Homo sapiens: one gene and its partners. The protein of the gene in region 1 interacts with the protein of each later gene in a pairwise test. Each region holds a gene or a part of one and is shown in the gene's direction. Other genes may lie near its edges.

Region 1 (8,686 bases):
TATCTTTTGCTGCGTCACAAACTACCACAAACTCAGCAGCTTAAAACAACACACAGTGATTATCAGTTTCTGTGGGTCAGGAGTCCAGACATGGCTGGTTGACCCGCTGCCTCAAGGTCTCAGCTGGGGTTGTCAATTCATCCCAAAGGTCAACTGGAGAAGGATCCACTTCATCTCTCATGTATGTGGCTGTTCAGTTCCTTTTGGGAGGCTGGATTGAGGGCCTCAGTCCCCAGCCAGGAATTGGCCAGAGGCCACCCTAGGTTTCTTCCCCAACATGGCAACTTTCAGTATCAAAACTATCAGAGAGAATGGCTAGCAAGAGAATAGTCTGAATCTTATATAATCTATTCACAGAAGTGACATCCCATTACCCATGCTGTTTTCGATTGGTTAAAGCAAGTTACAGGCCACACCCATACTCAGGGGAGGGGAGTACACAAGGGCATGACTGCCAGGAGGCAGTGACCACTTGGGCCATCTCAGAGCCTGCCTGCCATAAGAGAGCATAAATGGAGCACTTTGTAAACTGTAGGCTGCTGTTTGGGTGTAAGGAGATATTGCCAGCATTTGCATCTAGTTGCAAAGAGACAATGAGCCCTCCTGAAATCATAGAGAGCCACTGAATGTGGGAATTTAAATGCTAAACTGTACCATTAGTACAGAAATTAGCCAGCCGTGGTAGCACATGCCTTTGGTCCCAGCTACTTGGGAGGCTGAGGTGGGAGGATCGCTTGGGCCCTGGAAGTTGAGGCTGCAGTGAGCCGAGATTGCAGCACTACACTCCATCCTGGGTGACAGAGCAAGACCCTGTCTCAAAAAAAAATTTTTTTTTTCCATTAGTACTGGGGCTTCAGGGAAACTGGTTGAGAGCTGATTAGTTCATCTCATACCCTGTACATGTCCCTTCCTGGCTTATGATTTTAAGGCCAGACCTAAACAGCCACAACATGTCGAGGCCCCCCAAAACCATGTTTGTGGGGTCTTTTCTAGTTCACAAAGAGCTCTCACACCCATCCCCCTCTTTCCTCACAGTCACACTTGAGAATTCAGAGGAAGAGAGGCAAGCCTTGGTTACGATTCCTCGCAATCCTACTGGCAAGGGAGACGTGAGAGGAATGTGAGAGCTGAGCGTTTTGTTCATCTTTGCTTTACAAGTGAGAAAGAAGGTCATTTTCCAATATGGGGTAGCTGCTCAGTGGCACAGGTGATCCTCGAACCTGGGCCTTGAGAACCCCAGCTCTGCCCACACTGCCATGCCCCCGATGTCCAGGCCATTGCCGTGCACAGCCTGCGTGGTCCTGAAAGAGGGGTGGTCCAGCACAGGGGCAGGGAGGAGGGAGGGCACTGTTCTTATACAGCTTCTCCATAATTCCCTGTCTCCTAAAATAGGCTTGGCACATCCTGGAACACTAGTCCAAGCCTGTCTGTGGGGTGGATCACTGCTGCCTCCCCAGCTTCAGGTCACTCCTAGACCTCTCTGTCCATAAGCAGCCCTCAGCGACGAATATGCAGGGAAGTGGTGAGGGGATGAAGTGGTGCTGTAGTGAAAGTGCCTAAGCCTTCCCCACGCTGAGATTCATCTGACCCCGCCTCCAGATGCCCCAAGAAACCCCTGAAGCATGGCCCGCCATGCACCTGGGCAAAATCAAAGTGGTCTCGAACAGTGACGCTCAAGTCTGCAGATGGGATTGAGCTGAGAGGTACAGCTTGCTGCCCCCTGGTGGTCTGTCAGAGTCATAACTGCCAGGGCTGTGACAAGCTAAACAGTGAGCTTTTATTAAGTACCCGGTATGTGTCAGGCATGGTGTATAAGGCTGCAGGGGATAGGAGACCGTGTAAGACACAACCCTTGATCCCAGAGGACTTATAATATAGTGGAGGAGTCAAGATGTTCCCACATGAAAAGTTGACTCTCATCCCACCAAGCGGGATTTGAAGAGCAAACCATGAAGGGCATTGCAATAGGAGCCCAGAAGTGAGAGAGCTTCAGGGCTGGGGCAGTCAGGGGAGGCTTCTCAGAACCTTGAAGGATGGGCAGGATTTAAACAGATGGAAAAAGAAAGGCCACACGCTCCCCTGTCAAAAGCCCCGTCAGGAAACCCCCAGGGTCTCCAAGAGAGTTCATCTGGATTCCTTGACCGGGTTGCAGCCTCTGCAGCTGCATGCCTGCCCTGGCCTGTCCCAGCCTCGCCAGATCCCTCGCAGTTCCTGGAACTGTTTTCTCACACCCCTGGACTGTTCATTCTGCCCTCCCCACCTTGTCTACTGGATAAGCTTTCACTCAGCTTTTAGGATTCAGCTCAATACAACACCTGCAGTGGAGCATCTCCCCTCAGTCAGTAGCTGCCCCACTCTAGGTTCCGCAACTCTAGTCTGCAATTCTGTGGCTGCGAGTCTCACACTGTATCCTAAGGTTTGCCCCGTATCTTTTCATCACTAGGCAATAAGCTGCTTAAGAACTGTAGGACTATGGCTCACACTTGTAATCCCAGCACTTTGGGAGGCCAAGGCGGGTGGATCACCCACCTTGGTGGGTGGTCAGGAGTTTGAGACCAGCCTGGCCAACATGGTGAAGCCCCGTTTCTACTGAAAATACAAAAATTAGCCCGGTGTGGGGTTGCACGTCTATAATCCCAGCTACTCGGGAGGCTGAGGCACGAGAATCACTGGAACCCAGCAGGCAGAGGTTGCAGTGAGCCAAGATTGTGCCACTGCACTCCAGACTGAGGGACAGAGTGAGACTCTGTCTCCAAAAAAAAGAACAGTGGGACTGCATGATGGGGCAGTGGATCACGTAAGCGGAAGAAAGGGAGGTGAGGAGGGAAAGATAAATAGGGTAAGTGTGCAGGAACGTGGGGGATGGCAATGTCTTTGAAGCTGTCTCTAAAAGTTTATGGGCAGATAAATGTATCCTGCAGGCAATGTGGTGCATGAGAGTCACAGAAAGGCCCAGGGGTATGAAGGAAGGCTTAACAGCTGGTGGCAGGAAGGGTACTCAGAGACAAAACTGGGAAGGTTTGTTAGGAAACCATTGTGCCAGTGCAGCTTGAGAGGTGATGAGTCTTCACTGGTGTGGGGGACAGAAGACTGGGGTAGCCAAAGAAGAATTTGAGGAGTTTAAATTCTGGGCAGCTAGGGGAACGTCCCATGGGCTTGTCAAACTCTAATGTGCAACCTACTCAATTGGGACCTTGTTAAAATGCAAACTCTGACTCATTAGGCCTGTGGGGGGCCTGAGATGCTATCTTTCTAATGGTGCTCCCAGGTGATGCCCACGCTGCTGGTCCACAGAGCGGGAGTGGATTTGGAGCCACACTGCCGGGCAGGTGCAGCCCTCTAAGAGGACAGTGGTGGACATGTGATATCTTTGGGTAAAGAGATAAAGGCACCCCCTTTTACCTGGTGAACACACCAGGGTGCATAGCTTTGTGAGCACAGTGCAGTTGGGTTCTAGCCCCCACTTGCCCTTTGAGTAATAAACAATTTGCAAAGCCCTTCGGGACAGCTCTGGTGGAGCCACCAACAGAGCCTCCAGACAGGTCGGAGGAGAGGAGTCCATTTGGAGAGCAGGGTGGTGACTTTAACCTGTCATAACTGAGTTTGAGATGACCACTGGGACATCCACTGAAATGTCTATCTACTAGCAGCTGGAGACCCAGCTGGAGACCTGGACTTGGGGTCTGTGGGCTCACTGATGATATGCCACACAGCGAAGAAAGCAAAATGAGGGTTGTCTGGGAATCATCTAACCCTTCTGGCCTTTTTCAGTGAGTAACTCTCTTCTTCCAACATCTCTGTCCTTTCTGTTGTCTTGCAGGTCGCCGTTCCCTTTACTGAATGTAAGTGATCGTAGTCATTTTTCCATCTCCAAGATGCCAACTTCCCATTCCCCACCCTCCTGCCCCTTGGTCCCAATGCACCTGGGAGGCTCAGAAATCCCCATTCACTGACCTAAAAGGAGAATCTGTCTGAAGCCATGACAGCCTCATGCCCAGAGCTTGCCTCTGTCCTGTTCATTCAGCCTCAGAAGCCAGGACCAGTCTCCCCAGCTTGGCCACAGCCTTCCAGGGCCCAGAATGCCACACACCACTCCCTCTGGGCTCGCCTTGCCTTTGTTTTCCAGGAGGGTTTGAAGGAGAAGAGAGATACCCCCAAAAGAAGTGCTGGTTTGAGCCAGAGAAGAGCCACCTGGTGTTTTCGAGATGTGGCCCTTTCCCCGCCAGCCCGGGCCAAAGGCTCAGGGACCACTGGGGTGTGTGCCAAGAGGGCGGGGATCAAGAGCACAGCCTTTGGGATGAACGGGCTGGGTGGAATCGCAGCCAAATTATTCGCAGCCCCGTTCAGCATGCGTGCGGTAGGGATAGCTAATAACTGCCCCGAAGGGTTATCGCGAGGATGTAGTAAGATGCGTGGGGGTGCTTAGCATGATGCCACACAGGGAGGAGCCCCGCAATCAGCGGCAGCTGTTCCTCTGTGTCTGCAGCCACGCAGAAGCGGGAGCTAAGAAGGGTGTGACGGGAGAGGAAAGGCGAGAAGAGCACCAAAGGGGAAAGATCGTGAGAACTTTTTGAAACTGGGTACTCAACTTCGCCCACTTAGGCTGGCCCAGTCTGGAGCCACAGTCGTCCTCAGCCTTCAGGAAACCCCTGGGGCCTGGCCCTCCCGGCACCTGCTGCTCTCAGGCCCCCTGCCCCAGCCTCGGGGCAGTTCCAGGAAGACTCCCCCCGGCCCAGCCCAGGGCTGCAGCCACAGCTGGTCCTCAGCCCTCCGCACATCTTTGCAGAGTTTGATGGGGCGCCGGGCGGATGACAGCGGGAACGGTTGTGATCACTGGCGGAATCCTAGCTACGGTGATCCTCCTCTGCATCATTGCCGTCCTGTGCTACTGCAGGCTCCAGGTCAGTCCCCGGGACCCGTAGCCAGAGGCTGCCAGGCCACCAGCAAACCTCTTTTTCATTATGGGGGCAGAAACTGGAGGCCGACTTCAGGGCCCACAGAGCCCAAAGCTATGGAATGTAGCAGGCGTAAGTCAAGGAGGATGGGAGTTGGGGCTGGTCGGAAGGGAGCTAAGTGCCCCCCAGCCTGCCCACTCAGAGCACACAGAAAGTGTGCTGGAAAGATACGGGGTCATTGGGTTGTGTCTCCTGCACCTCTGAGATTTCAGGAGCATGGGAAGAGCACCATTCTGGGGAGGCTCTGAAAGCTGCCGCCAGCAGCTCCAGCCCTGTCCTCAATATGATGTGTGTGTCCCTGCCCCGCTCAACTACAGCCTGGAGTTACTGCGAGGAGTGGTGGGAGGGGAAAAGGAAAGCAGTACTGGCCTTGCAAAGCTGGGATTAGAAACTTGTGGAGCAGGCCCCTGGGGTTCAGTGCCTGGCACTAGGTTCTCCATGGAGCAGGGGACAGGGGCACCTGTGCACGCTCAAAAATGCATGGGGCGGGGGGAGCATTCACCCTCTCAGGCATCCCTCTGCCCTTCCGCACAGTATTACTGCTGCAAGAAGAGCGGAACCGAGGTTGCAGACGAGGAGGAGGAGCGGGAGCACGACCTTCCCACGCATCCCAGAGGCCCCACCTGCAATGCCTGCAGCTCCCAAGCCCTGGACGGCAGAGGCAGCCTGGCGCCTCTCACCAGCGAGCCCTGCAGCCAGCCCTGTGGGGTGGCCGCGAGCCACTGCACTACCTGCTCCCCATACAGCTCCCCCTTTTACATACGGACGGCTGACATGGTGCCCAATGGGGGTGGAGGCGAGAGGCTCTCCTTTGCTCCCACATACTACAAAGAGGGGGGACCCCCATCCCTCAAATTGGCAGCACCCCAGAGTTACCCGGTGACCTGGCCAGGCTCTGGGCGTGAGGCCTTCACCAATCCAAGGGCTATTAGTACAGACGTGTAAATCCTTCCACCCCGACCCGCACACACACCCACACTGCTGCCCTGGCGGGGGCCATGGGGGTGATGAATGACCCTCCAACAGCCCCACATGGGTTGTTTCTGTTTCTTTGGCTTTTCTCGCTCCGCAGTGGAGGGTTTACTAGGATTTAAGCTTTTGAGTGCATTGAGAACCAAGACAGGGCCTGGCTCCAACTCTGTGGGCCAGAGGTGGGGGACTGCTAGGTCGAGTCTGCAGCTTCGCCAGTTTCTTGGTTGGGACACTCCTCTGGCAGCCCCAGCACCACCACAACCCCTTGCAGTGTGCCCCAGTCCCCTGGATTCGCTGGACTGCAAAAAGGAGCACCAGGGAAAGCTCAGCAAAGGCTCAGGAGGCCTCCCGGGTCCTCGGGAGATGAAGCATCCGTGCCTAGGAAAAGGGGACAGAGGGCAAGGAGAGAAGTGAGAGCTACAATTCCAGCATTGGAGAAGCGAGGGGCGGGGCGTCAACGGCACTGCTTCAGGACGCGCTTGCTGAAACGACTCCAACAGCTAGTTCACAGCCCAGCTTTGTACGTTGGTTACCATAGCTACTGCTGTCACTGTAGCTGCTCCCGTAGGGTCGTTGATTCCTGAACGTATCACATCTCACCTGCCCCCTTCCTCGTGGGACGTGTCAAGTTGACTTTAAAGCCTAAGGTGGCTTGTGGGGACTGCACCAGAAAGTGTCTAACCTTGTGTTCCCCGAAATCCTTTCTCTGACTTAGGAACCAGCGCCCCCTGCTGGAGAAGTTTTTTCATTTTGTTAGCCGACTTCTGGTAGCTTAGCAAAGAGACCAGCTGACTGTCTCTCGGCCCAGCCCACCACGCCGAGTAGCTTGTGTGGATGCAGTCCTGTGAGGGTGTGCATAACCGTTCCCAGGTGTACGCACGCGCGCGCGCGCGCACAGACACACACACACACACACACACACACACACACACACAGTAACCACGGGTAGGCACCAGGGGCTTTGTACATTCAGGAGCTGCAGAGAGGAAAGGTCTCCCATGTACCAGAGAAGGAAAAGTCTGATCCCGAAACAGCTTGAACGAAAGGTGGTTAACACGTGACCAATCCCCATGGCAGACAGCGGGCTGGTGAACAGGAAGAGCACAGAATCTCTGTGGGGCGATGCTGCAGCGGCTGAAACCACGTCAAGTCCCCCAGAGCCCGGCATTCTATGTAAGCATCCACCTGTGACGCCGTGGAGCAGGATCTTCATTCATCTCACCAGAGCAACAGCCCAGTCCTGAGGATGGGAGGGACGTGACTTAGCCTTGGGATTCCACGCTCGCCGCCCTCCCTTGGCCGCCCTACTCCCCAGTTTCCTGGCGATGAGCCATTTATTGTGTCTCACACCAGCCTCATTTCCAACTCCGACTTCCTACTTAGAATGTGGCAGTGGCTTTGTGAGTGAGAATCCTGATGAGTTTTCCAGTGGCCTCTGCAGAAGCTGGCCCCCTTCTAAGGGCATAGCTAACCCCCTTCCCACTCCTGAGTCACTGAATTCGAGGAGGGTGGGGCAGGGAAAGGGCTGGCCCCCCTGCTGAAATCTTGATTCTGCATTTGAGGAAGGTCAGGGTGCCGCTGGGGGAGCAGGGAGCGGGGAGGGAGGAAGAGGGGAATGCACATCTTTTGCGCCACTATTAAGGCACCTGTCACCTTACATCTCAATCTGGAATCAAAGTGCCCTGGGTTGAGAAGCAGACCTGGGCTCTGGTCACACTTTGGTCACTCATTAGCTCTAGGACCAGTCACTAATCTCTGAGACTCCATTTTCTCCAGGGAAACGAGGCTTGCCCAGATAGACTAACAACCCTTTAGTGCTCCAAGAAGTGAGAATTTCCGAAAAAGATCTGCCGGCCCAGAGCACTCCCTCTTGCCCTAATCCTGGCAGGGTCTGGATGTATTTACCCAACTCTGATCTTGCGTGCAGGGATGCTTGCTGATGGATGAAAGACCACAATAAAACAAGATTAGCAGCAAAACAATTTTAATTGTCAGTGAAAAGCAAACATGTTTGTCAGACTCTCCTGTGGAGTCATTTCAAATGGTAACTCTTCTCTTGTACCAGGAAGCAGCTGTAGGTGGGGTAATGGGATCTGTCTCCTGGTGCAGAGGGGCAGCTTATGGCGGCAGCAGCTTCAACAAGCCCGTCCCACGGCCAGCCCTAACTGGGCCAAGTGCAAGCTCCTGATGAGCTGCTGGGCCTGGCAGCGTTCCCCACTTCCTAGTGCCTTGCTCCCCTGGAATTCCACAGCCAATCAACCACAGCAGCCGTGTCCTCCTTGCCAGAAATAACATCATTCGTACGTCCTGCCTTTGTAAAAATCAAGACCCAGTTAACCATCACCCACTTCTTGCCCCTGATTGATGGGGTCCCTGAGTACAAGCGTCCTGTGCAATCCCCTCCCTCCTACCGCTTTCCTAGCTAAGCCCTGCTAGCCCCACAAATCAGAATCTGGGTTTGGGGTGCTGGAGAGATGGTGGGCCCCAGCTCTTCCCCACATAGCCCACGCTGCTCAGGGCACGGTCTCCAACCAGGCTCGAGATTGCCTGCCTGCCCGCTGCAGCCGCAGGGCCCCACCCTGTGGAAAAGGAAGCTTCCCCCACTCAACTGCACTGTCCTTTTCTGCTGTCTAGTCTGTGCTAAGGGACACTACTTGTACACTTTTCAAACGGTGCCCTAAATTGGAAGAGAAGGAGGGGCCAGGAACACAGCCCTCTCCGCCGTCTTTCTCCACCTCCACTTCACCACTCCTGCTCTA
Region 2 (6,843 bases), on another chromosome or scaffold:
TAAAATAGTTCAATAATTTGACTTATTTCCTTGTGATGAATAAGTGGTAGAAACTAGATTTATCGTTTTAATATGTAATAGATTTAAATATATAAATTACTTTTAAAAGAAATATTAAAGTGAATTGAATAGTTAGTAATTTATACTTTGCTTTACTAAGTAATGGTGGTTCCAAAGTATTTGATAAATTTACCTCTTTCCAATGCATATGGGAAGTCTTTTAATAAAATTACTCTATTGTGAGTTTATAATCATCTCAAGTTATGTAATAAGTTAGGACTTTGCATGTGGGGTTTCCATAAATCACTGTACACTAATGCAGCTGTAAGAAAACAGAAGAATCTAGTTGTATTCTAGCCTGGGCTGTGGGTAATACAAAAGCTGGTTACATCGTAAAAAATTATTCTAATGTCCACATATTTTTATAAGCTAGTAATCTGTGTTCAGTTGTATAATGTTTGCTGCTTTCCAGTGTTTGGAACATCTCTTAATACCTCACTTAACCTAATTTTAGTCTTGCTAGTTATATTTGTTGAATTTGGAGATTAAAGTAGATTAATGTTACTTGTCTTTATTATTGTCAACACAAATTGTGAGTCGAAGCTTCAGGTTAAGTGGTCTTTTCTCGAGTGACATAGGTTGTCTATAATGCAAAGTGAATCACATTTTAAATGTAGATTTGTTTTATTTGGAAAAGTAGGATTGTAGGCGATTAAGAGCTGAAATATATCAAATATTATAACTGTAATGTCATGTCAATCAATTTTTCCCCCCATATAGTACAAACAAAATCCCGAAATGTTCAAACAGACAGCTCGACTTTGGGCACATGTGTATGCTGGAGCACCAGTTTCTAGTCCAGAATACACCAAAAAAATAGAAAACCTATGTGCTATGGGCTTTGATAGGGTAAGTACATAAGGGCATGTTGATTTTGATATATTGATTGATTTTAAATTATTGCAAATTCTTGGCTGACAAAAGTGGTTTAGAAAATAAGAGAAATTCGCAGCCTGGGCAACATGGCGAAACCCATCTCTACAAAAATTAGCTGGACATGGTAGTGAGTGCCTGTAATTCCAGCTACTCTGAAGGCTGAGGTGAGAGAATCCCTTGGGCCCAGGAGGTCGAGGCTGCAGTGAGCGATAGTCATGCCACTGCACTCCAGCCTTGGTGATAGAGCAAGACCCTGTCTCAAAAAAAAAAAAAAAAAAAAAAAAAAGGAAAATAAGAGAAAATCTAGTTTTGGTAAACATATTTTCTGTTTTCAAAGTCAGTGATTTTTTTATTTTTACTAATTACTGTCATTGATTTTAGAAGCTTTCCATGCACTGCAAATGTAAATCAACTTACAGAAAAGAAACAAGGTGTTAATTCCCAGTATAAAGAGTGAATGATTCAGTATTGTTTAAATGTTTCCTTGAGATTTAATTTCCTGTCCCCTTTTCTTCTCTACAGAATGCAGTAATAGTGGCCTTGTCTTCAAAATCATGGGATGTAGAGACTGCAACAGAATTGCTTCTGAGTAACTGAGGCATAGAGAGCTGCTGATATAGTCAAGCTTGCCTCTTCTTGAGGAGCACCAACATCTGTTATTTTTAGGATTCTGCATAGATTTCTTTTAAACTGGCATTCTTGCCTAATGATGTTATCTAGGCACCATTGGAGACTGAAAAAAAAAAATCCCTGCTCTGTAAATAAAGCTAATTAAACGTCTGTGTAAATTTAAAAAGGGGAAATACTTTAATTTTTTTTCTTAATAGTGTAAAAATTCCCTGAGCTAAGCTAAAACCATGGAAGAAACATGCTACTTTAGTGTTTAGCAGTGTACCAAGACTAGCAAGAGTTTGCTTCAGGATTTTGTTGAATAATTAAGATAATATTTTGAGTGTGTCAGGGCCATTCAAATTGTTGGTGTTGCATCACAGCTACCTTAACTGTTTTTAACATGGATCCTCTGTGCCTGTGAATTTACTTGCATGCTTGTACTTGACTTCTTAGGATGGGTAGCTGAAAAGACCACCATTTTAAGCATTTGAGAATTCTTAAATATGAAATTTATTCAGAATTGAAGATGGTGACCTATTCAGAGCCTTTTTGTCCTTGTCAACAGACTGGGACAGTGTCTGATTCCCCCTTCACCCCCCCCACCCCCGCCTTGCCACACACAGCTAATATTCTAATGGTAAATTTCTCTGTATCAGGTGGGGAAATGTGCTGAAGGACAGTATGTATCCCTTGCTTCATTTTTAGGTCGTAGGTTTGGAATGTCTTGTCCCAGTTCTTCAAACACTCTTAAATTTTTCTTAAGTAATGTAAAAATGGAACTGCCAATTTTATTTCTCTTGCAAAAATAGTAAATACTTGATGTTACATTATTCCCAGGTTTAATGAAAGAACCCAACTTAGTTTTTCAGTGAATTTGACACCTATTTTTTAGTGATGAAATTTTTCTTTGAGAACTGGCAAGGATGCAGTCAGCTGTTTGCAGTTTTTAGCCTGATTTTGGGGTCTATAGAGATTGCTTTATTGGATACTTCAAGTCATTCTTGCTTGCACTTCCCCTATTGACACATGAAAGCTGTGTTGGTGTTTTATTGTACATACTTCAGATGCACATAGGAATAGAAGTGTGTTATAAATCTAGCTTTCTTTATGATGTTTCTGATAATACGAGAATTGAAAACTTTACCTTCTCTTGTACATAGTCAGACTATTTGTATTAAATTTACATTTCATTCTAAGTTCAAAAGTTTGAAAATTATTAGTTTTGCAAGATCACACACTAATGTAACCATTTTATGAAGGTTGAAGTGGATTTATGCAGGCAGTTCTATATATAGAAATACAATTCTTTTTAAATTTTTAGGACCAATACAAAATAACAAAAATGTAATGGAATCAGACTGAATTAAAGTAAGGCTGTATATTGAAAGTCATATTATAAAAGGTTTGCTTTCTTTAAGTGTTATTTATCTTAAATTATAATCGTTAAATGTTTGGAAGATAATTTTTGAATCATAACGTCAGCATAACTTCATTTGACTTCTCAATAATCTTGATACTAGAAGCAATAAAAGAACCATTATTAAATATATTGTAATGTTAAAGATGTGAAGGTTCTTCCAAAAATTTGTAAGGCTTTCCTAATTAACAGTAAACTCTTATAGCTGATATTATTACATACTAAACACAAGTTGCTGTTTTTTCCCCATATGTTTGCTTACGCATGTCTTTATACAATCACCTCTTTTTATTGCTGTAGTTTATTTTCTAAAGATGCCAAAGGAAACAAGATTTTTCTTTATTTATTTTAAATACCTGAAACCTCGTACTTTATATTTTGAAGTAAGGTGGGATTGTGTGAAAATGTGGATGGTTTTTCTCCAGTGTTGGTTAGAACTACTTTTTTTAAGTGGAGGGCAACTTGGTAGTATTAGTAGAATTTGGGTTTAAAAATATCAGACACATCTACCCAGTTTATTTTTTGCCTGTATTATCAGGGTATATTTAATTGTCCTGTGGTTAAACAAAGGTGAGAGAGCTCAGAGGTTTCTAAAGGTCAAGCATTTTACATATATACATACATACATGCTCTTGGAGGCAGCTATATCCTGCTTTGATTTTTATGCACATGAGCCCTATAGGGTTATATACTCATCTAACTACACTTCAGCATCCCCAGTGCCCAAGAAATTGGAAAGTACAATATTTGGTTTGAGACATTCTTCATAAAAGATTCTTTATTATAAAAATTTACCTCATTTACATTTAATGTGATGATCTTTTTTTTCCTTTCTGGTATATTTCCCACTGTACTGTTTGGTTTTTGTTATTCTCTTGTCTGTGGGTAGATTTAGTTACCCAAACATAGAAACTAAAGCAATTGCTTTTTTCCTCTGGTCTTAAATATGTTTGGACAAAAAGACACTAAAAGGTCAGGCCTAGGGGAAAAGTACCCTGGTGGAAATTATTTTTGTAATTCTTAATATTTTTGAGTTGGCTCCGTTTGTCAGTTTTAAAAGCCTCAAAAATTATGTTAAAAAAAAAATCCAGTGAAATCCCATTTAGGGCAGGCCGATTTGTTAGAAGTCACTGATGCTCCAGTAGGCTTTTGTTATAATCAGGCCTGTTTCCTGAGTATGTGCCTCTTTTAAAAGAAGAAATAATTAGCTGTATAGTATTTCAGTACTGATGAATGAATGAATGAATGAATGGCAGTTAGTGGACCCAAATAAGTATTCAGTGGTATATAAATATTTGAGGAACTAGGTACTGAATTAGGTGCTCTGAGTTGGCACCCCGAAATGTTTGGAATCACGACTATGATTTACTTAAACACGTAACACATTCAAGGATATATAAATGGAGTCTAAGTATTTTGCTTTTGAAGAGAATAATCTATGAAATGGAAGACTTGATTTTTTTTTTCATTTTTTAGAAGTAATACACATTTATGATTGTTGGCACATAAAACTATGCAAAATAATTCTTTTTAAGTATCTGTAAGAAAGAATTGGCAGTTTAAACGGATTTTGCTTATTTATGCACTACAGAATGCAGCATACTGTATTACTGTTGAGGCTGCTTAATAAGTTTACCAATGTGAAAAGCAGATCTTGGGTATAAGTGTATGCCTGATTTGAGCTTTTAAAACTGTGCAGTAGGTGTATGGTAATGTTTTACAATCCTATGTAGCAAAATAGGAAATTATGAATTTTTGTTGTTATTGTTTTAAAGATTTAAGATGGATTGGGGTAGGGAACAGCTGGAGCCAGGTATACCTTCTAGTATGTAGAGGGAAACAATGTTTAGATAGGAAAAAGGAAGCCGTCTGTTTACAGTTAACTTTATTTCATGGACTTCTACAAAATGTTGTATTAATCACTTTTTCTAGTTCAAGGAATTTCAATTCCAGGGTACAAACCATTGATTTAAAAATTACGTTTCCATTCTTTTTAGTATCAGTTTAAAGTAAATGCTTACCATCAGCCAGTTGCTGTCACTGGGAAGAAGGCAACTTGAAGTATTTACTGATAAAATAGCCTTTATTCCCAAGTGTGACTTTTCTTCAGTGTCTACATATTATGTCACACGTTCTATTTGCACTGCTGCAATATAGATCAAAGATCTTGTGGCATAGGGGTAGGGGAGTGTTAGTATCTCCCTTGTCCCATTTGTTCTGTTACTGCTTCATTGGACTGATACACCCTCATGAACTTGCAATCACCTAAATGGAAGTCTTGAATGTGTCACCTTTTGCTTGGTTATTTCAACCATGCTGCTATATATAATCAGGTGTGGCACAGTTTGTCAGTTTGATTATAGGTGTGAGTGGATAGAAATCATTACACTGTGCTGTTAACGATCCTTGTCTGCTTGCTGTTACCTACTTTTTACAGGCATCATAATAAAAGCTAGACTATTTCTTTGGGGGGAAAGAGACTTATTTAATGTAATTTAAAAAACTTTTCCAATAGAAAATGAAATATTATTGAAAATAATATCTATTTTTTAGCTTTCAGCAATTGATGGTGCTTTGTTGTGGTGTCTGCTGGAAGTCTACTGCCATTATAGGGAACCTTGCTTGTTAGCTTCTCTAGATCTCTATTCTAAACAATCTGTTAGTGATGATAAATTCTGTAGGAGGGTCTATTCTGAGCCGTTAACTTCCTGTAAGGGGAAAATGGGTGGGTTACCAGAAATACCATTGAAGCAGGGTGGGCTGTGGGGTGGAAGGTTGGGGTATTTGTCTTGAGAATTAAAAACTACGAAACACTTTTGTACACAACTGATTTTTTAAAAAATAAACACATTTTTAAAGATGTTGAATTTTTCCCCCCTTATTGGGAATTCTTAAAAATAAATGCATGCATGTTTTCCCCTGAAAATGGTTTATATCTTATTTCTGGGTGCTCATCTGTGGACAAGCAATTAAGTCTTACTCTAAATAAGAACCAGGCAGATATTTCTCCTTCACAAATTTCATAGTGATTGACATATAAATGCAGTAAGTTGTATCAGATCTTTGAATTTAAAAACATTGAAATTTAGTTCTAATTAAATTTACTAAAAGAACATATTTGCTTAGGTTCTAATCCAAAATTTAGAGTAATTAAGAGTTAGTTAAGTAATACTTTGTATTCTGTTTCCATATATGCTTTCTGGAAAGTTGCTCGGTACTGTCAAAAAGACTGAATTGTTTCAGAAAGTCCAGGGTTTAATCCCAGCTTTTACTCAAGAGCAGAGAGCCTGGACTTTTCTGAGCCTCAGTTTCCTCATCTAGGTAAGATATTTGCCCAGTACTTCGTAGCGTGTTGGTGAAGATCAAATTAAATGATTGATGTAGCTATAAAACTACTTAATTGTATAGACGTTAATATAATTCTAACACTAAATTTTGGCTAAACTATGAAAGTATTACTCTGTTCCTAATCTGAAACCACCAAGAGGATACCTTGTTTGAAAATTGTGGTTTGGCAAAGTAGCTATTTTTTGTTATGTCTGACTATTTCAAAGGTCCATTGATTGGTTATTATCTGTAGATTGACCCTTCCTCCATAAATGCTGATAATTAGAAGACACTTTGTCAGGGTTTGTACAAATTATTTTACATGGCAAAACTGATCGTGTCTTTATGGTATTTGTAACCAACTCACAGCAGGCCTATAGGTTTCTTTGCCAAGAAATGGAATTCCTCCTGACCTGGAATATCAATATAAAGTGTTCTTTTTGTGGAGTAAGACTGGGTCTTTAGGTACTAAAAATCCAGGATAACAAATAGAATTCAAAGCTGGGTGTGGTGGCTCACACCTGTAATCCCAACACCTGGGGGGGCAGAGG
Region 3 (7,152 bases), on another chromosome or scaffold:
CCAGGCTGGAGTGCAATGGCACGATCTCAACTCACTGCAACCTCTGACTCCCAGGTTCCAGTGATTCTGTCTCAGCCTCCCAAGTAGCTGGGACTTCAGGCACGCACCAACACACCCGGGTAATTTTGTTGTATTTTTTAGTAGAGACAGGGTTTCGTTATGTTACCCAGGCTGATCTAAAACTCCTGGACTCAAGCTATCCACCCTCCTTGGCCTCCCCAAGTGGTGGGATTACAGGTGTGAGCCACCGTGCTAGGCCAAAAGGAACTATGTATTAAGAATTTTCTTTTAAAGAAAAGAAGCAGGGGACTGAGTACAATTGTAAATTTCTGTTCTGTATGGCAACTTTCTGGAAAGTAACTTGGCAATATCTATCAAAATTTAAAATGTACATGTTGATACAACAATCCACCTCTGTAAGTTTATTATTGAATACACAGTATTCAGTTTACCATACTATATATATAAAAAGACCTTGCATTATAGGATTGTTCATATTAGTAAAAATGTGGAAACAACCCAAGTGTCCATCAATAGGTAAAGAATTAAATAAGTTATGGCATATCTACATGATTCAGTATAACAGCCGACAGTTACAAAGAATGAGGTAGATCACTATATGTTGACAGTGAATAGATCTACAAAATATATTTGGTGGGGAGGGAGATAGGAAATAGGAGGAAAAAGTATATATTATCCCCTTTGGATTTAAATATGTATACTGTATATATCTCACATTGTACATATTTATACATTATACCAGCATTTTTCACATATATATATGTATAATGCTTAAGATGTTTTAATGTTAACAGGGGTGACTTAAGCTACAGGACAATTAACACTTATTTTCTCTTTATGTTCCTCTGCTTCTTAAAAACTAATAAATAGGCCGGGCGCAGTGGCTCACACCTGTAATCCCAGCACTTTGGGAGGCCGAGGCGGGCGGATCATGAGGTCAGGAGATCAAGACCATCCTGGCTAACACGGTGAAACCCCATCTCTACTAAAAATACAAAAAATTAACCGGGTGTGGTGTTGGGCGCCTGTAGTCCCAGCTATTTGGGAGGCTGAGGCAGGAGAATGGCGTGAACGCGCCGAGGTGGAGCTTGCAGTGAACCAAGATTGCGCCACTGCACTACAGCCTGGGTGACAGAGCGAGACTCCGTTTCAAAAAAAAAAAAAAAAAAACTAATAAATGCCATGCACAGTGGCTCATACCTGTAATGCTAGCACTTTGGGAGGCCAAGGCAGGAGGATTGCTTGAGCCCAGGAGGTCAAGACCAGTCTGGACAACATAGCAAGACCTTGTTTCTACAAATAAAAAATGAAGCCGGGCGTGGCAGTGCATACCTGTGGTCCTAGCTACTCAGAAGTCTGAGGTGGGAGGATTGCTTGGGCGTGGGAGGTTGAGGTTGCAGTGAGCGGGGATCATGCCACTGCACTCCAGCTGTGGTGACAGAGCTAGACCCTGTCTCAAAAAAACCTAATAAACATTAATATTTACTTAAAAAGAAGAAATTGACCATCCACGTAACCAAACTCTCTGACTGACTTTGTTCATTCTAGGTTTCCAGTGTAACCAGTCATATCCTCTCTTCTGGCTACATTATTGATACAGCTTTTTGACTACATAATTGGTTTACTTTGATGAAATTGCCCATTATGGTAGCTCAAGTTGTCCACTCAACTATCTAGACACAGAAGAATGTGGTGTCTACTTACTATTAAGAGTTTTTTTGTGTTTGTTTTTTTATAGATGGTCTCAGTATGTTGCTCAGGCTGGTCTTAGCATAGGACTTAGCATATTATATCTGAAAGTAGAGTAATAGGGAAAGAGACTAATTAAATTGTACAATTTATGAAGAAACCAAGTACAATTTTAGTAAGTACACATGTTGATGTATTCATTTCTTCCAAGATTGCATATGTAAATTGTCTCTCTTATCTTTACCTCCTTAGAAACTTACACATGTCCAAAAATGATTGAGATGGAGCAGGCGGAGGCCCAGCTTGCTGAGTTAGACCTGCTAGCCAGTATGTTCCCTGGTGAGAATGAGCTCATAGTGAATGACCAGCTGGCTGTAGCAGAACTGAAAGATTGTATTGAAAAGAAGACAATGGAGGGGCGATCTTCAAAAGTCTACTTTACTATCAATATGAACCTGGATGTATCTGACGAAAAAATGGTAATTCAGTTTTGCTTTTAGAGGGATTGAAACATGTTGAGACTTAAAACATTGGTTAGTGCACTTTTTCTTCTTCTCTTTAATCAGGCGATGTTTTCTCTGGCCTGTATTCTTCCCTTTAAATACCCGGCAGTTCTGCCTGAAATTACTGTCAGGTACGTTACAGAAGCTCTGGCCAACTTTGGAGGTCAAAATTAATCTGAGAATAAAAGCAATTCTCGAATTTGTTTTCTGTTCCAAGACAATATTTTTCTTGTATCTTTTCTATTAGATCAGTATTATTGAGTAGATCCCAGCAGACTCAGCTGAACACAGATCTGACTGCATTCCTGCAAAAACATTGTCATGGAGATGTTTGTATACTGAATGCCACAGAGTGGGTTAGAGAACACGCCTCTGGCTATGTCAGCAGAGATACTTCATCTTCACCCACCACAGGAAGCACAGTCCAGTCAGTTGACCTCATCTTCACGAGACTCTGGATCTACAGCCATCATATCTATAACAAATGCAAAAGAAAGAATATTCTAGAGTGGGCAAAGGAGCTTTCCCTGTCTGGGTTTAGCATGCCTGGAAAACCTGGTGTTGTTTGTGTGGAAGGCCCACAAAGTGCCTGTGAAGAATTCTGGTCAAGGTTTGCTTTTACATATGTATATGAAGTCATGTCAATAATGTTAATACTAAACAAGATACAGTCATGTGCTGCCTAGTGACGTTTTGGTCAACAGTGGACAACACATAAAACAGTGATGCCATAAGATTATAATGGAGCACATATAGAAACCTGATATATGGCACTTGATCTTCCCACTATTGAATATCAGAATGATATTCAGTAATGGTGCTGGGACATTTGGTTTTCTATATGAAAAAATATAAATGCAAAAAAAGTACCATCTAGGTTTGTGTAAGTACACTCTGTCGTGGTGGTACAACAACAAAATAGCCTAAAGATACATTTCTCAGAATGTATCCCCGTTGTTAAGCAACACATGACTATTAGAGATGTGGAGATAAGTATGTCCCAGGGGTTGTGTCTTTATGGGGATTCAATCTCAAGTTGATGGATATGGCAGAAATCACATGTAGTCAGCATTTTCCCCGTCACCTGACAAGTGCATGTAGGAGACATTCTGTAAATATGCACTGAATGAATTGAGCTCCTGCCCCAGACACTATGACCCCATCCACTTCCATGGATCTGGTCCTTCCCTCATTTTAGTGATGCTGCAAACTGTATACCCTGTGAAGTAAGGAGCTTTCTAGAAGCATTAGAATTGCCACTAGTCTCATTTCTCTACTGATATACTAAATGAATTTCTGAGAAGGTCCATAGTAGTTTGGGATTCAGTAATTCCTACATTTCTAAACTACTGATACATGGCTGTAGTAAGGGCAACAAATGAGTTCAGAGATGAGATTATGACCAGAATCATATTTGATTAAAATAAATCCCTGTGAGATAAAAGTAGACTTCTTGGACGGGGTGTGTATGACTCACACCTGTAATCCCAGCACTTTGGGAGGCTGAGGCCAGAGTATCACTTGCAGCCAGGAGTTTGAAACCAGCATGAGCAACATAGCAAGACCTGCCTCTACTAAATCAATAAGTAAAAGTTATAAACATTTTAAAAAGTAGACTACTTCTAGGAAAAGGCATTGATAAATCTGTTTTATAACTTCTGTTTTAAATGCTCTAGAATATACATTTTGAAAATGTTTACTTTGGAAATTTCTTTTCAGACTCAGAAAATTAAACTGGAAGAGAATTTTAATTCGCCATCGAGAAGACATTCCTTTTGATGGTACAAATGATGAAACGGAAAGACAAAGGAAATTTTCCATTTTTGAAGAAAAAGTGTTCAGTGTTAATGGAGCCAGGGGAAACCACATGGACTTTGGTCAGCTCTATCAGTTCTTAAACACCAAAGGATGTGGGGATGTTTTCCAGATGTTCTTTGGTGTAGAAGGACAATGACATCAAGAGTAGTTGAAAGTATCTTGCCACTGTTGGCCTTTTGATTTTTTTTTCCCACTTTTTCTTGAAAGATTAAGTAATTTTATTTTAGTTCCATTCTAGAATGTTGGGGAGTGGGGCACAAGAAAAAATAGTATAGCTGAAATGCATCTGTTAAAAATGTCATGATTGAAAGCAGAACTGAGTTTCAAATTACAACCTTAAAATTGTTGTTAGATATTTCTTCACATATCAGCTGCCCATTTTGAAAAAGAAATTATCCATAAAGGTAATGTTGGTGCTCCAATTTGCCAGCCATTCCCAACCCCCTTCTCCCTTACCTGCCTTCACTAAAGAACCCAGAAAAGCTAATTGCTCCCCTTTCAGCCTCTGTTGCAACTAACAACTCTCAGTGGCCTCAGGACACAGCTTTGGCCTTGGGAATTCTGGGAAAACTTTTACTTCCTGATTAAAGATACATATGCAGCTAGGCCACCTCCTCCCCCCCTTACTGCCATAAACACCAAAGTGATGACTGGAGCTGGAGGAGTTATTTGAACCACGACGAAGGGCCAAGAGAACCACGAAGATGCCAGTTGCCACATTGTTGAGCTGCTGACCCAACACCAGCCATTGCCTGTCTCTAAACATCTTATGAAATAAAACCAGTTTTGTTTAATTTCTAGGCTTTTTTTTTAAATAGACGGAGTCTTGCTCTGTCGCCCGGGCTAGAGTGCAATGGTGCAACCTCCGCTCACTGCAACCTCCGCCTCCCAAGTTCAAGCGATTCTCCTGCCTCAGCCTCCCAAGTAGCTGAGATTACAGGCGCCCGCCACCATGCCTGGCTAATTTTTGTGTTTTTTAGTAGAGACAGGGTGTCACCATTTTGGCCAGGCTGGTCTTGAACTCCTGACCTCAGGTGATCCTCCCACCTCGGCTTCCCAATGTGCTTGGATTACAGGCATAAGCCACCGTGCCTGGCCAATATCTAGGCTTTTTACTAGCAGTTGAAAGCTAGTTTGTCAAATAGAGTTTTTCAGAGCTTTAGTTTTGCATTTACCCCAGCCTTTTGATACACAAATAGGTGAAGTTTTTCTGAAGTGGAGTTTGCAGTTCCCCACTTTTTGTATACTCACGCTCTGCCCCTGCTCCTGGGCTTGCCTCAGACAAGGCTGAGGCATTAGTAGGGCTTAAACTTTTTTAACAAGCCTCAACAATTCATCAAATTAGTAATTTAGAAAATTTGTTTGGCAAATTGTATTCTGACATTTTTTGTTCTGGAAATGGCTTTCTGTACATTTATTTTTGCCAAATTGACCTAGCATTAAATAAACACACCACCCAGTTTTTGAGGACCTCCATAAACCAGTTAGTTCCAAAAGCATTTATTATTTGCTAATTTGCTAGCATGCAGGTTGATGCAGGTTGATACCAGGTGTTGGATATTTCTTGACCAGTCAGACTTGGTTAAGGAATGGAGTTGGGGTGAGAGACAATGCATTAAGTTAGTAAAAGGTTGTAGGCAAACTATGCTTATCACAAAATGAATCAGTTAGTAAAAGACAGCATATATTATGTAATACAATGTAGAAATCTGAAGGAATAAAATGGAAGAAGGCAATGTGGATAGATCTTAAATATAAAGGTGGTTAAACATAAATGAGAATCAGAATGGTATTTAAAGCACAGTGCTTGTATTGGACCTAAATCTTATGTACGTCCCCAGATTTCCTCCCTGCTGCCCTGTCCTATCGCCCCGTCAGTTGCCCTGGAAATCCCAGTTCCTCTGCTGCCACCAGACAGCCAGGTGGACCAGTTGTGTGTCTAGTTTCTGATTCCTCCAGCGACTAACAGATTTGTATGAAATACCCTACAGAGAATGGAATCTGACATCCCTACCACCAAAGGGGGCAGATGATGCATATATTACTTTAAGCAGCTAAAGTGGCAGCTAAACTGCTAAAACTTTTTCAGTCTCTCTACATTATATTAAAAACCAGATTGCTATGTATAATATGCAGATCTCAAATGTCACATAAACACATAGAATGCAACAGAGTAGTTTTATAAGTTTTCTTTCCTGGGACATCTGTCAAATTTAGACATTTATGATTAAGTCATATAAGCCAGGGAAGTACAGATTTTCCAATCTTGTGATGACCAACTTCCTTTGAGAATGGATAAATGTAGTTAAATGTTAGAAATGTTAGAGTATAAACAATATAGCTTTCTTAGGTTTCTTTCTCTTTTTTTTTTTCTGGAGACAGAATCTGGATCTGTCACCCAGGCTGGAGTGCAGTGGCGCAATCTTGGCTTACTGCAACCTCCGCCGCCTGGGGTTCAAGCGATTCTCCCACCTCATTCTCCCGAGTAGCTGAGATTACAGGTGCGTGCTACCACGCTCGCTATTTTTTGTATTTTTAGTAGAGACAGGGATTCACTATGTTGGCCAGGCTGGTCTTGAAGTCTTGACCTCAGATGATCCACCTGCCTCAGCCTCTCAAAGTGCTGGAATTACAGGCGTGAGCCACCGCGCCCTGCCCAGTTTCTGCCAATGATTATATACTTGATATATAAACATCCTTAAATATAAAATGTTCCGTATGATTGCACATAAAAAATTTGTTCAGCAACGACAATTTGTCAACATATTAATGTAATAAATAGTTTGAACTGGAATCACCTATAAAAAATGATAAATCCTGGAAAGAAACCGTTTCAAGTCAAATTATGTTTAAAAGTTACATTTTTCTAAAGAAAACAAGTATAGGCAGGGAATACTGGCCACATGCCTTGTTTTTTTTTTTTTTTTTTTTTTTTTTTTTTTTTTTTAAGACGAAGTCTCGCTCTGTAGCCCAGGCTGGAGTGCGAGTGCGGTGGCGTGATCTAGGCTCACCACAACCTCTGCCTCCCAGGTTCAAGCAATTCTTCCTCAGCCTCCGGAGTAGCTGGGATTGCAGGCGCGCGCCACTGCACCCCGCTAATTTTTGTATTTTTAGTAGAGAG

Evidence for each region.
Region 2: the proteins of FAM163A (region 1) and UBE2K interact in binary tests that used the Homo sapiens proteins (3 or more experiments, as listed by UniProt).
Region 3: the proteins of FAM163A (region 1) and RWDD2B interact in binary tests that used the Homo sapiens proteins (3 or more experiments, as listed by UniProt).

What each region holds. Positions count from the first base shown.
Region 1 is NC_000001.11:179,808,290-179,816,975, forward strand, and holds the end of FAM163A (protein FAM163A), read left to right. Parts: intron 1-1,035; exon of another isoform or gene 1,036-1,157; intron 1,158-1,392; exon of another isoform or gene 1,393-1,644; intron 1,645-3,820; 5' UTR 3,821-3,842; intron 3,843-4,486; exon of another isoform or gene 4,487-4,786; 5' UTR 4,787-4,808; coding exon 4,809-4,901; intron 4,902-5,489; coding exon 5,490-5,900; 3' UTR 5,901-7,909; downstream 7,910-8,686.
Region 2 is NC_000004.12:39,776,902-39,783,744, forward strand, and holds the end of UBE2K (ubiquitin-conjugating enzyme E2 K), read left to right. Parts: intron 1-780; coding exon 781-909; intron 910-1,458; coding exon 1,459-1,533; 3' UTR 1,534-5,891; downstream 5,892-6,843. UniProt on the Homo sapiens protein: Accepts ubiquitin from the E1 complex and catalyzes its covalent attachment to other proteins. In vitro, in the presence or in the absence of BRCA1-BARD1 E3 ubiquitin-protein ligase complex, catalyzes the synthesis of 'Lys-48'-linked polyubiquitin chains.
Region 3 is NC_000021.9:29,003,432-29,010,583, reverse strand, and holds the end of RWDD2B (RWD domain-containing protein 2B), read left to right. Parts: intron 1-891; exon of another isoform or gene 892-989; intron 990-1,962; coding exon 1,963-2,189; intron 2,190-2,276; coding exon 2,277-2,344; intron 2,345-2,460; coding exon 2,461-2,823; intron 2,824-3,932; coding exon 3,933-4,167; 3' UTR 4,168-6,200; downstream 6,201-7,152.